Linked DNA regions of Homo sapiens: region 2 is linked to region 1. Evidence: fine-mapped expression QTL. Tissue or cell type: whole blood. Region 1 holds a variant in brackets; the other region holds the start of a gene. All regions are shown on one strand. Distances are from middle to middle.

Region 1 (5,230 bases):
GTTACAGTTGTGATTAAACTACATTTACCTAGTGGATCTACATGCAGTTCAGTTCTTCAAGTCCAAGTCCGTCTTAAAAATAACAATGAAAAACATTTCCCTTCCTATATTCATATCATTGTCTACAAATTTCTGGACGAGGAAATTACGAGTTTGCTACTAAAGTCGAGCTTTTTTCCTCTCTAGTTCCCAACTTTACCATGTCGTTTTCATAAATATTTTCTTTCAGATTTATTCCAACACAAGAAAATAATCTCTGTTACCCACACTTCTGATTTTTATTTAGGAGCATTTTTTTTTTCGTTTCATCCTCACAGTTTTCACAATTGCAATACTTTGGGTAAATATTTGATTTCATCACTTAAATTCTCATCACAAACATACATACATGTATGTATATATAGTATATATATCTATATTTCTGTCTCTATATACATCTGTCTATGTATGTATGTATGTATCTATCTATCTATCTATCTATCTATCTATCTATCTATCTATCTATCTATCTTTCTATACAGAGAGAGTCAGTCTTGCCCTGTCTCCCAGGCTGGAGTACAATGGTGCCATCAGCTCACTCTAACCTTGAACTCCTGGGTTTAAGGGATCCTCCTGCCTCAGCCTCCCAAGTAGCTGGACTACATATAAAATTTTTCAATGGCAGTATCACATCAGAAGGTTGTACCAGTGGCTTAGTAAATGGAGTCACATTAAATGTTTGCCTTAATTAGGATGGAATTGACATGTATAAAATATTCAATTCTATTTCTATATTTTCTATCTATATATAACATTCTGATACTCCAATTACTCAAGTTCTTCTGTTCCCACCCCAAGATTTGTGATTCACTTTTTTATGTCCTAGATCTTATGGTTACATTTATTCTTAAGTGGCTTATACTGTTTTTTTTGATAATTCCTCTAGAAGAGGAAGTCATTTTTTAAAAATTGAGACAGAGTCTCACACCGTTGCCCAGGCTAGAGTGCAGTAGTATGATCTTGGCTCACTGCAACCTCCGCCTCCCAGACTCAAGGGATTCTCCCACTTCAGTAGCTGGGACTACAGGCACTCGCCACCATGCCCAGCTAATTTTTGTATTTTTTGTAGAAATGAGGTTTCACCATGTTGCCCAGGCTGGTCTTGAACTCCTGAGCCCAAGTGATCCACCTGATGCATTACCTGCCTCGGACTCCAAAGTGCTAGGATTACAGGCGTGAGCGACTGCTCCTAGCCAAGCGTTTCTTAAATCCAAATATTTGCTGGAGTATGCGTACCTAATGCATGTATGAAGGCCTATCCCTCTGAGAGTCTGGGTTGATAGATTTGGAGTACAATCCCTGCAGAGTGTTGATAAAATTCTCTATGGAATGCTGTTGTGACATACTTGGTAACTCACAGCCCTAATATATGCTAAAATGGATGGAATTTTGTGAGAAACAAGAAAATATCTTCTAGTAGTGATGATTTTTTGTAACAAATATATGAAATATCTGTATGTAATACAGGATTTAAACACAAGGTATTGTTAGAATTCTAGGTTGTGTGAAGTTACATGTCAAGATGTTACTGAAATGCCAAGGGTTCAGTCTAGGTCCCGTTGCTTGCCACACAGAAAGACAATCACTGAGACAATGAGTATTGCGAGAGAAGAAAGGCTTTTTTGGGTAACATCAGGTGGGAGAGGAAAATAAATATCAAATCTGTCTCCCCACAACCGACTAAAATTGGTGGCTTATATAACAGGCAAGGAATATAAAACAGGAATTAGGGAAGGGTAAGGAAGAGGAGTTGGCCAACAGGAATCAGGTGGTCGGTTAGGCAATCATGATGGATGAGGGGTCCACCATCGCATTGTCTAGATGCAGTGATCTGGTAAGTTTCAGTTCCTTGAACTATCTGGGAGGCCTGAATGGTTTCATGAGAAACGAACTCAGATAAAATGAATATAAGTTTCAAGCTTTAAGACTAGGAGAGTCAATTTCTATATTTATTCAAAAAGACTGTTAACATCATTTCTGTGGGGAAATCCAGCCAGTTTAAAAAATGATCAGCAAAGATAGGGAATATGGTAGAAATGTAAAGGAAATAGAGGTTAAAGTGATATATAGAGCATAGGGAATGATGGCATGATATGTAAAAGGCATGTCTAAATTTTGAATAAACATAATGAAGGGCAGAGAATGAAGGGATTAAATGGAAAATTTGTCAGGCCATGAGGGAGAATGCCAAAAGATTTGGTCCGAAGCCAACCATATGAAAGCCAATGTTAGAAGGTGTCTGTAGGGGAAGTAGTAGAATAGAAATGTGGATAAGTGGGGTAATCATAGCAACATTAACTTTTATTGCCAGGCCGAGTGGATTTTGTGTTAGTAATTGAGGTAGCATGGTAGAGGGTAGGTTTCTTTTGTATTTTTCTAGCCTATGGGTAGTCTTATCTTTCACCCAGTGACAGCAATGATGCAATAATAAGGAACAGCCAGAGTTTCATATATAAATAAATATATAAATTATATATATATATCTTTTGAGATGGAATCTTGCTCTTTCACCCAGGCTAGAGTGCAATGGTGTGATCTCAGCTCACTGCAACCTCCACCTCCTGGGTTCAAGCAATTCTCCCACCCCAGCCTCCCTAGTAGCTGGGATTACAGGCGCCCACCACCATGCCCAGCTAATTTTTTGTATTTTTAGTAGAGATGGGGCTTCACCATGTTGGCCAGGTTGGTCTCGAACTCCAGACCTCAGGTGATCCACCC[G/A]CCTCAGCCTCCTAAAGTGCTGGGATTACAGGCGTGAACCACCACCTTACATTCTGGCTGGGGAAAACAAAATAAAAACACAAGGAAACTAAAAAATGAGGTAGCTGCAAATTATGAGAGAAAACACACACTGCCTATATCCAATCAGGGAAATAAGCAGACACACTTGTTTTAAACAAATATCTTGGGAGAGGCAAGTCAGAATGTCAGATTTCGACTTCAACGTATCTGTGACACTCTTAGATGGTCATCCTGTTTTTAAAATGCATCCCTTAGGGAGGTGGGGGGGTCAGCCCCCCGCCCGGCCAGCCGCCCCGTCCGGGAGATGAGGGGCGCCTCTGCCCAGCCGCCCCTACTGGGAAGTGAGGAGCCCCTCTGCCCGGCCAGCCGCCCCATCCGGGAGGGAGGTGGGGGGGTCAGCCCCCCGCCCGGCCAGCCGCCCCGTCCGGGAGGGAGGTGGGGGGGTCAGCCCCCCGCCCGGCCAGCCGCCCCGTCCGGGAGGTGAGGGGCGCCTCTGCCTGGCCGCCCCTACTGGGAAGTGAGGAGCCCCTCTGCCCGGCCACCACCCCGTCTGGGAGGTGTACCTAACAGCTCATTGAGAACGGGCCATGATGACAATGGCGGTTTTGTGGAATAGAAAGGGGGGAAAGGTGGGGAAAAGATTGAGAAATCGGATGGTTGCGGTGTCTGTGTAGAAAGAGGTAGACATGGGAGACTTTTCATTTTGCTCTGTACTAAGAAAAATTCTTATCCTGTTGATCTGTGACCTTACCCCCAACCCTGTGCTCTCTGAAACATGTGCTGTGTCCACTCAGGGTTAAATGGATTAAGGGCGGTGCAAGATGTGCTTTGTTGAACAGATGCTTGAAGGCAGCATGCTCGTTAAGAGTCATCACCACTCCCTAATCTCAAGTACCCAGGGACACAAACACTGCAGAAGGCCGCAGGGTCCTCTGCCTAGGAAAACCAGAGACCTTTGTTCACTTGTTTATCTGCTGACCTTCCCTCCACTATTGTCCTATGACCCTGCCAAATCCCCCTCTGCGAGAAACACCCAAGAATGAACAATAAAAAAAAATAAAAATAAAAATAAAATGCATCCCTTTTCTTCATTCTGTATCATCAAACTAATTTTCCCAAAGCACCAATCTCACATTTAGAGAGAAACTTATTCTCAGTGTCCAACCTTTAGCCTCACTGTGGGCACATTCTCCTGTGCTTCTAAAGAAAGAGGGAAAGATGAGAAACAATGATCATTTGGAAAGTTTGCAACAGGCCAATGAACCATGTAGACCTCTCCAGAAGCAGATGTGCTTCTGAATAGGATAAGATGTGTTACTGAATGGGTGCTACTGCTGGTGCCCACATGTGTTGTCTGTCACCTTCAGTCACATTTGGCATGTAGTACCTACACAGATGTCAGATCTGAATTTTTCCCATTTCATTGTCCCTAATACACTGATCCCTTGTCATGTAACTAATAGCATCTTCTATAATTCTACAATTATGTCTTGGTTGGCATCACAAAAGGGGCCTAAGGGACCACCTTATTCCTTTTAAACCAAGACTCATGCCACCTTTACATATTTCTTAGAAAGGAGGATATATAATGGAGGAAGACAAGGCTCACCGATGAGTTCAAAACAAGGGGACGAAGAAAGTGAGGAATTAAGGTTTGCTCCTAAGTATTTTGCTTGAGTCAAGAGACTTTTTTTTTGAAAGATATATTTAACATTTTACATTATGTATATAATAGTCAAAAAGTCTTTTATCTCAGTCAATGAATATTTTATTTCAGTGAAAGGGTCTTATATATCGGGGACATCTGGCCTGGGATCTAGGAAACATGGAAGGAAATTAATCTGTAATAAAGTGTTAGTAATTAAGAGGTCAAGCTCTATGACTCAGTCTCCAAAGTCAACTTTCCTCAAGTCCTAATAACTTTTAGACGCCCCCAATATACAGACTATTTTCTTTTAGGCTCAACTTTCTTTACATAAGACATGTGAATCCACACGTCTATGCCTTCTACATTTTAGTGCAAGGATTAGTAAAAAGTAACTAATAGAGCGCTTTCCAGTTTGGTTAAAGGGAGTCCTTTAACCAAATATCATTTTAGATATCATTTCCAGTAGAAAAAAATCTCCTGGCTGAAGTTCATGGGTTTTAAGTTCTTTGTTTCCTGGGAGTTCACTATAAAAAGAGTCTTTTTTCAAATTATGATTTTTAGGTAGTTGTTTTATAAAGATGTCAGAAAAATTTAATATGTCTTCTTTTAGCATTATGGATTTATACTTTCCTGGGGATAGTTTCATGCATCTACCTGTTATTATCTCAATTAGGGAAAACTGATGTCTACCAAAAGGGGTGGATTTTAGGTTAAGGAAAACCAGTGGAAGGGCCCTTGGCCAAGACATGTGAAAAGCCTGGGTTAATTTTGCCAATTGAATTTTAATTATTTTGTTTATGCATT
Region 2 (5,230 bases), 25 kb before region 1:
AGGGAAAGACCTGACTATCCCCCAACACAACACCCATAAAGAGTCTGTGCCTAGGAAGATTAGTAAAAGAGGAAGGCCTCTTTGCAGTTAAGATAAGAAGAGGGCATCTGTCTCCTGCTCATCCCTGGGAATGGAATGTCTCAGTTTAAAACCCAATTGTACATTCTATTTACTGAGATAGGAGAAAACTGCCTTATGGCTGGAGGTGAGACATGCTGGCAGCAATACTGCTCTATACTACACTGAGATGCTTGTGTAAAGTCAAACATAAATCTGGCCTACGTGCACATCAAGGCACAGCACCTTTCCTTATTTATGACACAGAGAACTTTGTTCACATATTTTCCTGCTGACCCTCTCCCCACCATTACCCTATAGTCCTGCCACATCCCCCTCACCGAGATGGTAGAGATAGTGATCAATGAATACTGAGGAAACTCAGAGACCAGTGCTGGCAGGAGTCCTTCGTATGCTGAGTGCTGGTCCCCTGGGCCCACTGTTCTTTCTCTATACTTTGTCAGTGTGTCTTATTTCTTTTCTCAGTCTCTCATCCCACCAGATGAGAAATACCCACAGGTGTGGAGAGGCTGGCCCCCTTCATAAGGTTGTTGAGATTTATCTATGTTGGTGCATGCATCTATGATTTGTTTTTTATTATTGTTCAGTAGTATTCCAGGGTATGATTACACTGCAATTTGCTTATACATTCATGTACTGATGGACACTTGGACTGTTTCCTGTTCAGGGTATTATGCATAAAGGTGCTAAGAACATTCTTGTGAGTCTTTGTGAGGACATATCATTTCATTACTGTTGTATAAGTATCTAGGAGTGGAATTCCTGAGTCATAAGATTCTTGCTTTTATTTTGCAATTCTCCTAAGGAGTCATATAGTTCTGTAAAGCTTTTCACTCTTCACAGATTTGATATTTTAAGTAACACGGTATGTTTCTGAAATGGAGTTTGCATTTTGGGGCATTTTCTATAGATGTATCATGAAGGACACGTGAAAACTCTGTTATAAATATAAACACTCCACTGCATGCAGGAATTTCCTTCTCATTCTTCCAATGGAATTGTCTTAATTTAGGTTGGATCAGAATTAGAATTTACGTTATGATGACTATGTAAATAATATTTATAGGTCAGTCAGGTAGTATCCTATGATTACTTTTCTTGCACAACTTTTTTTTTTCTTTTTTCTTTTTTTCCTCATGAAGGGGTTGCCAAGGCTGTGTAGTGCAGTGGCTATTGATAGGTGCGATCATAGCTCACTGCAGCCTGGAACTCCTGGGCTCAAGCGATCTTCCTGCCTTGGTCTCCCCAGTAGCTGGGACTACACGTGTGCGCCATCGCGCCCGGGCTTGCACAACTTTTCATTCTCCCAGAGTCGCCTTATTTATTCCTTCCAGAATTTTAGGCACTTGGTTCTCCGAAAGCCCCGACGTTAAGATTGACTCCACCTACAGCAGAGGGAAGGCCCTTCTTCTCTCTTAAGGAAAATTCCCGCCTCCCGCATTGGATTCCTTTTCCGGTTGGCTGGTGGCTGCTCTCTTTACCTGCACTGGGCGGTGACCGTGTCCCTCAAATGTAAATGAGGTTCCAGGGGTCGCTGTTTTTTCACTTTCCGTTGACGGGGTGAACAATATCCTCGTACCTCGATTGCCTCTCCACACCCTTTTGGTCCTCAAAAATCTTCCTCTTGTCCTCCACATGTAGCTAGATGCGTTTTCGCGGTATATGACTCAGGGTGCGATTGCTCTTTTTCCTCTGTGGAGAAAGCGTTTTCACTTGTACGGACACCTAAGTGTTAAGATGGCCGCGCCCATTGTGTCATTCCCGTCATTCTTTGTGCAAAGCGGATGACTTTTCTCCCCAGCCCGCTAAGGTGCACGTAGCCATACCATGTTTGTCTTGGCTAAGCTCGACCCTCTGAAAATAAATGAAACTTGGGCGCAGGATTTAGGTGCCAAAATATGGAGTTCTTCACCGTCCCGCGCTATCCCTGAATACTTGGGCAGAAAAGGTCCACTTTACCTTCCGTACGTGCAGGATTCAAAGATGGCTGCCTCCAGTATCCGTGACGAGAGGACGCGAACTTACTACCTCCCAGTCGTCCGTGCTCCGTACACCTGCAACTTCAGACCTTCCTCGGCCGCCGTAGGCCGGCTTGGAGGCTGGGGGAGGGCCCAGAAGTGGAATAATTCAGGAAAGTGCAGGTTCTGGGAAGTCTCGGTGGGTTCCCCGCAAAATCAGGTCTGTGTGTGGGTCTGTCTGTCAGGATGAGGGGAGGAGGGTGTCTGTGGGCGTCCGTTTAGTGCGGAGCCGTGGAGTTTGTGGGGGAAGCGGGAGCAAGTGGGAGTCGGGGTATTGGGGTTGGGGCGTCTCCGGAGTCAGCCCTGAGGGATCCCAGTGGTCGGTGGTCAGAGTCTGTCCAGAGCAACACTTGGAAGTCCGTGATCAGGGTTTGGTGCCTTTGCGGGTCACTCTGTAGGGCTCGGTGATTGAGGACTGGAGTGAGGAGTGGTTTTTGTCAAGGAAAACTGTGTCTGCTTCGGATTCGGGGTTTTATTTTTTATTTTTGAGACAGGGTCTCGCTCTGTCACACAGGCTTGAGTGCAGTGGCGCAATCGTGGCTCACTGCAGCCTCCATCTCCCGGGGCTCAGGTGATTTTCCCACCTCAGCTTTCCCGAGTAGCTGGGACTACAGGTGAGCGCCACCACGCTATCTATCTATCTATCTATCTATCTAATCTGTCTAATCTAATCTATCTATCTATCTATCTATCTATCTAATTTATCTATCTAATCTATCTGTTTATTGCAGAGACGGGGGTCTCACTATGTTGCCCAGGCTGGTCTCCAACTCCTGGCCTCAAACGATCCTCTCACCTTGGCCTCCCAAAGTGCTGGGATTACGGGCGTGAGCCTTCGCTCCAGGCTGTAATCAGGATTTAATATGCGACTCAGTGAGGAGGAGCCCGGGTTCATGTGAACCTAGGTGTGTGGTCCAGGTTTTTGGATTAATCTAAGGGGGTGTGACCATGTTAGGGAGGTCTAGATGTGACAGTCGTGGAGAAGCTTGTGAAGGCTGAAGCCTTGGCAGCCAGGGCATCCTGATTGGTGTGTGTGTTCAGGTCCAACGGTACATTCCCTCTCAGTCCCTTTTAAGTTTCTCTGCAAGGACTGGTTTACAAATCTCATTTGACTTCTCACATCTCTCCTTTCTCTCATCCTGGTAAATAGGAAAGCTTTGGGGAAGATCAAAGATTAATCAAATCTAAAATGGTAAGGTGGCCTGGCGCGGTGGCTCACGCCTATATTCCCAGCATTTGGGAGGCCAAAGTGGGCGAATTGCTCGAGCCTAGAAGTTGGAGATCAGCCTGAACAACATAGCCTGTCTCTCCAAAAAATACAAATATTAACTGGGTGTGGTAACACACGCCTGTAGTCTCAGCTACTCGGGAGGCTGAGGTGGGACGATCACGTGACCCCGGGAGTTCTAGGCTGCAGTGAACTATGATTGAGCACTGCACTCCAGCCTGGGCAACAGAGTGAGACCCTGCCTCAAAAAAAAAAAAAAAAGAAAAGAAAAGGAGAAAAGAAAAAGGAAAAAACAAAACGAAGAAAATGATAAGGTTTCTATTAAAGATTTTCGTTCTTCTTCCTCAGGTTTACTGTGTGAATGTGTGTATACACACACGTAAATATTTTCTTTCAGGTTCTGACACAAGTAAAACATCTCTCTTATCCCAAAATGTGTTCCCCAGTAATGACTTTTGATAAGATTTTTGTATATTTCAATTTCAGTTTTCTATGCTTGATTTTCACAATGCAGATAAGCTGCTGAAACATTGGTATAATTTGCCGTATTTAATTTTACATTATGAACGTTCTTATAGTAAACATATCATCCATGTTTTTGTTTAAAAATTTTTTTTTAAGATTTCTGTAATAGTATACCATCAAGAGGCAAAACTGCACCACTGTGACTTGAATCACTAAGTGTATGGATATATTTAGATAGAATTTTAAGACTTAAAAAGTTCACTTATCACTTTTAAGAATGGGTTACAATTCTATGTTTACCCAAACATGTTTCTCCCTGACCCTCATCAGCACCTTAGTTTTTAATTTTTTTGCAATTGTAAATGGTGTGTTTTTAATTTTGACCTTTCTGTTCTCTTCTAATTTACTCTTACATAGAAGAGCAATTAGTTTAGAAAATATTTACATTGTTTTTGGTCACCTTACTGAACAAACTTCCCTGTTCTCCAGGTTACAAAAACTTTCAAACATATAACATGATTTAAAGAACTTTACAATTGAATACCTGTTTGCCTACCATCTGGATTTTATCATCATTTTATTGTGTTTCTTTTATTACATATCTATCTATATATCATCCTTCTACTCATCATTAATCCACCTTTTTTTCTTTTTATAGAGATGGCATCTCACTATGTTGCCCAGGCTGATCTTGAACTCCTGACCTCAAGTGATCCTCTCTCCTTGGCCTCCTAAAGTGCTGGGATTCCAGGTGTGAGCCACTTCACCCAGCCACATTTATCCATCTTGTAAAATATTGCTTTGTTTTTTGGTGCATTTCAAAGTAAGTTGCAGACATTCATACATTTGCCCCTGAATATTTCAGTAGGTTTATCATAATTAAGTTCTACTGACAGCTTTTCCTAATTACAGGTCTATTAGTCCCATACTGTATAATTCAGTGGCTTTTACTATGTGCGGCCATCACCAAAGTCAACTTTAGAACATTTTCATCACTTAAAAAGAAACCCTGTACCCTTTTGTTACCACTCCCTATGCCCTACCACTAAGTAATCTCTAATCTACTTTCTGTCTCTATAGATTTGCTTATTTTGACCTTTCTGTTTTCTTCTAATTTACTCTTATTTCATTTCATGTAAACGCTACAATATAATATGTGATCTTTTGTGACTGGTTTCTTTCACATAGCATAATTTTTTTTTTTTTGAGACAGAGTCTTACTCTGTCACCCAGGCTAGAATGCAGTGGCGTGATCTCAGCTCACTGCAACCACCACCTCCCAAGTTCAAGTGATTCTCCTGCCTCAGCCTCCCAAGTAGCTGAGATTACAGGTGCCTGCTACCATGCATGGCTAATTTTTGTATTTTTGGTAGAGACGGGGTTTTGCCACGTTGGCCAGGCTGGTCTCAAACTCCTGACCTCAGCTGATCCGCCCACCTCA

What was found. PIP is the estimated chance that this variant, and not a neighbour inherited with it, causes the effect.
Region 2: it holds the start of ZNF613, and the variant in region 1 is the best candidate, but not a certain one, in a credible set for the expression of ZNF613 in whole blood (TOPMed, PIP 0.68).

What each region holds. Positions count from the first base shown.
Region 1 is chr19:51,949,809-51,955,038 of GRCh38, forward strand. All of the region lies in intron 1 of ZNF350-AS1 (ZNF350 antisense RNA 1), which reads left to right. Among named protein-coding and RNA genes, the nearest start is that of ZNF350-AS1, 3.3 kb to the left of the region's middle. The variant G/A (reference allele first, on the strand shown) is at 2,758.
Region 2 is chr19:51,925,285-51,930,514 of GRCh38, forward strand. It overlaps ZNF613 (zinc finger protein 613), which reads left to right and starts at 2,188. Exons shown (of 6, transcript NM_001031721.4): 1 at 2,188-2,256; 2 at 4,448-4,612. RefSeq lists enhancers at 1,208-1,971, 1,827-2,126.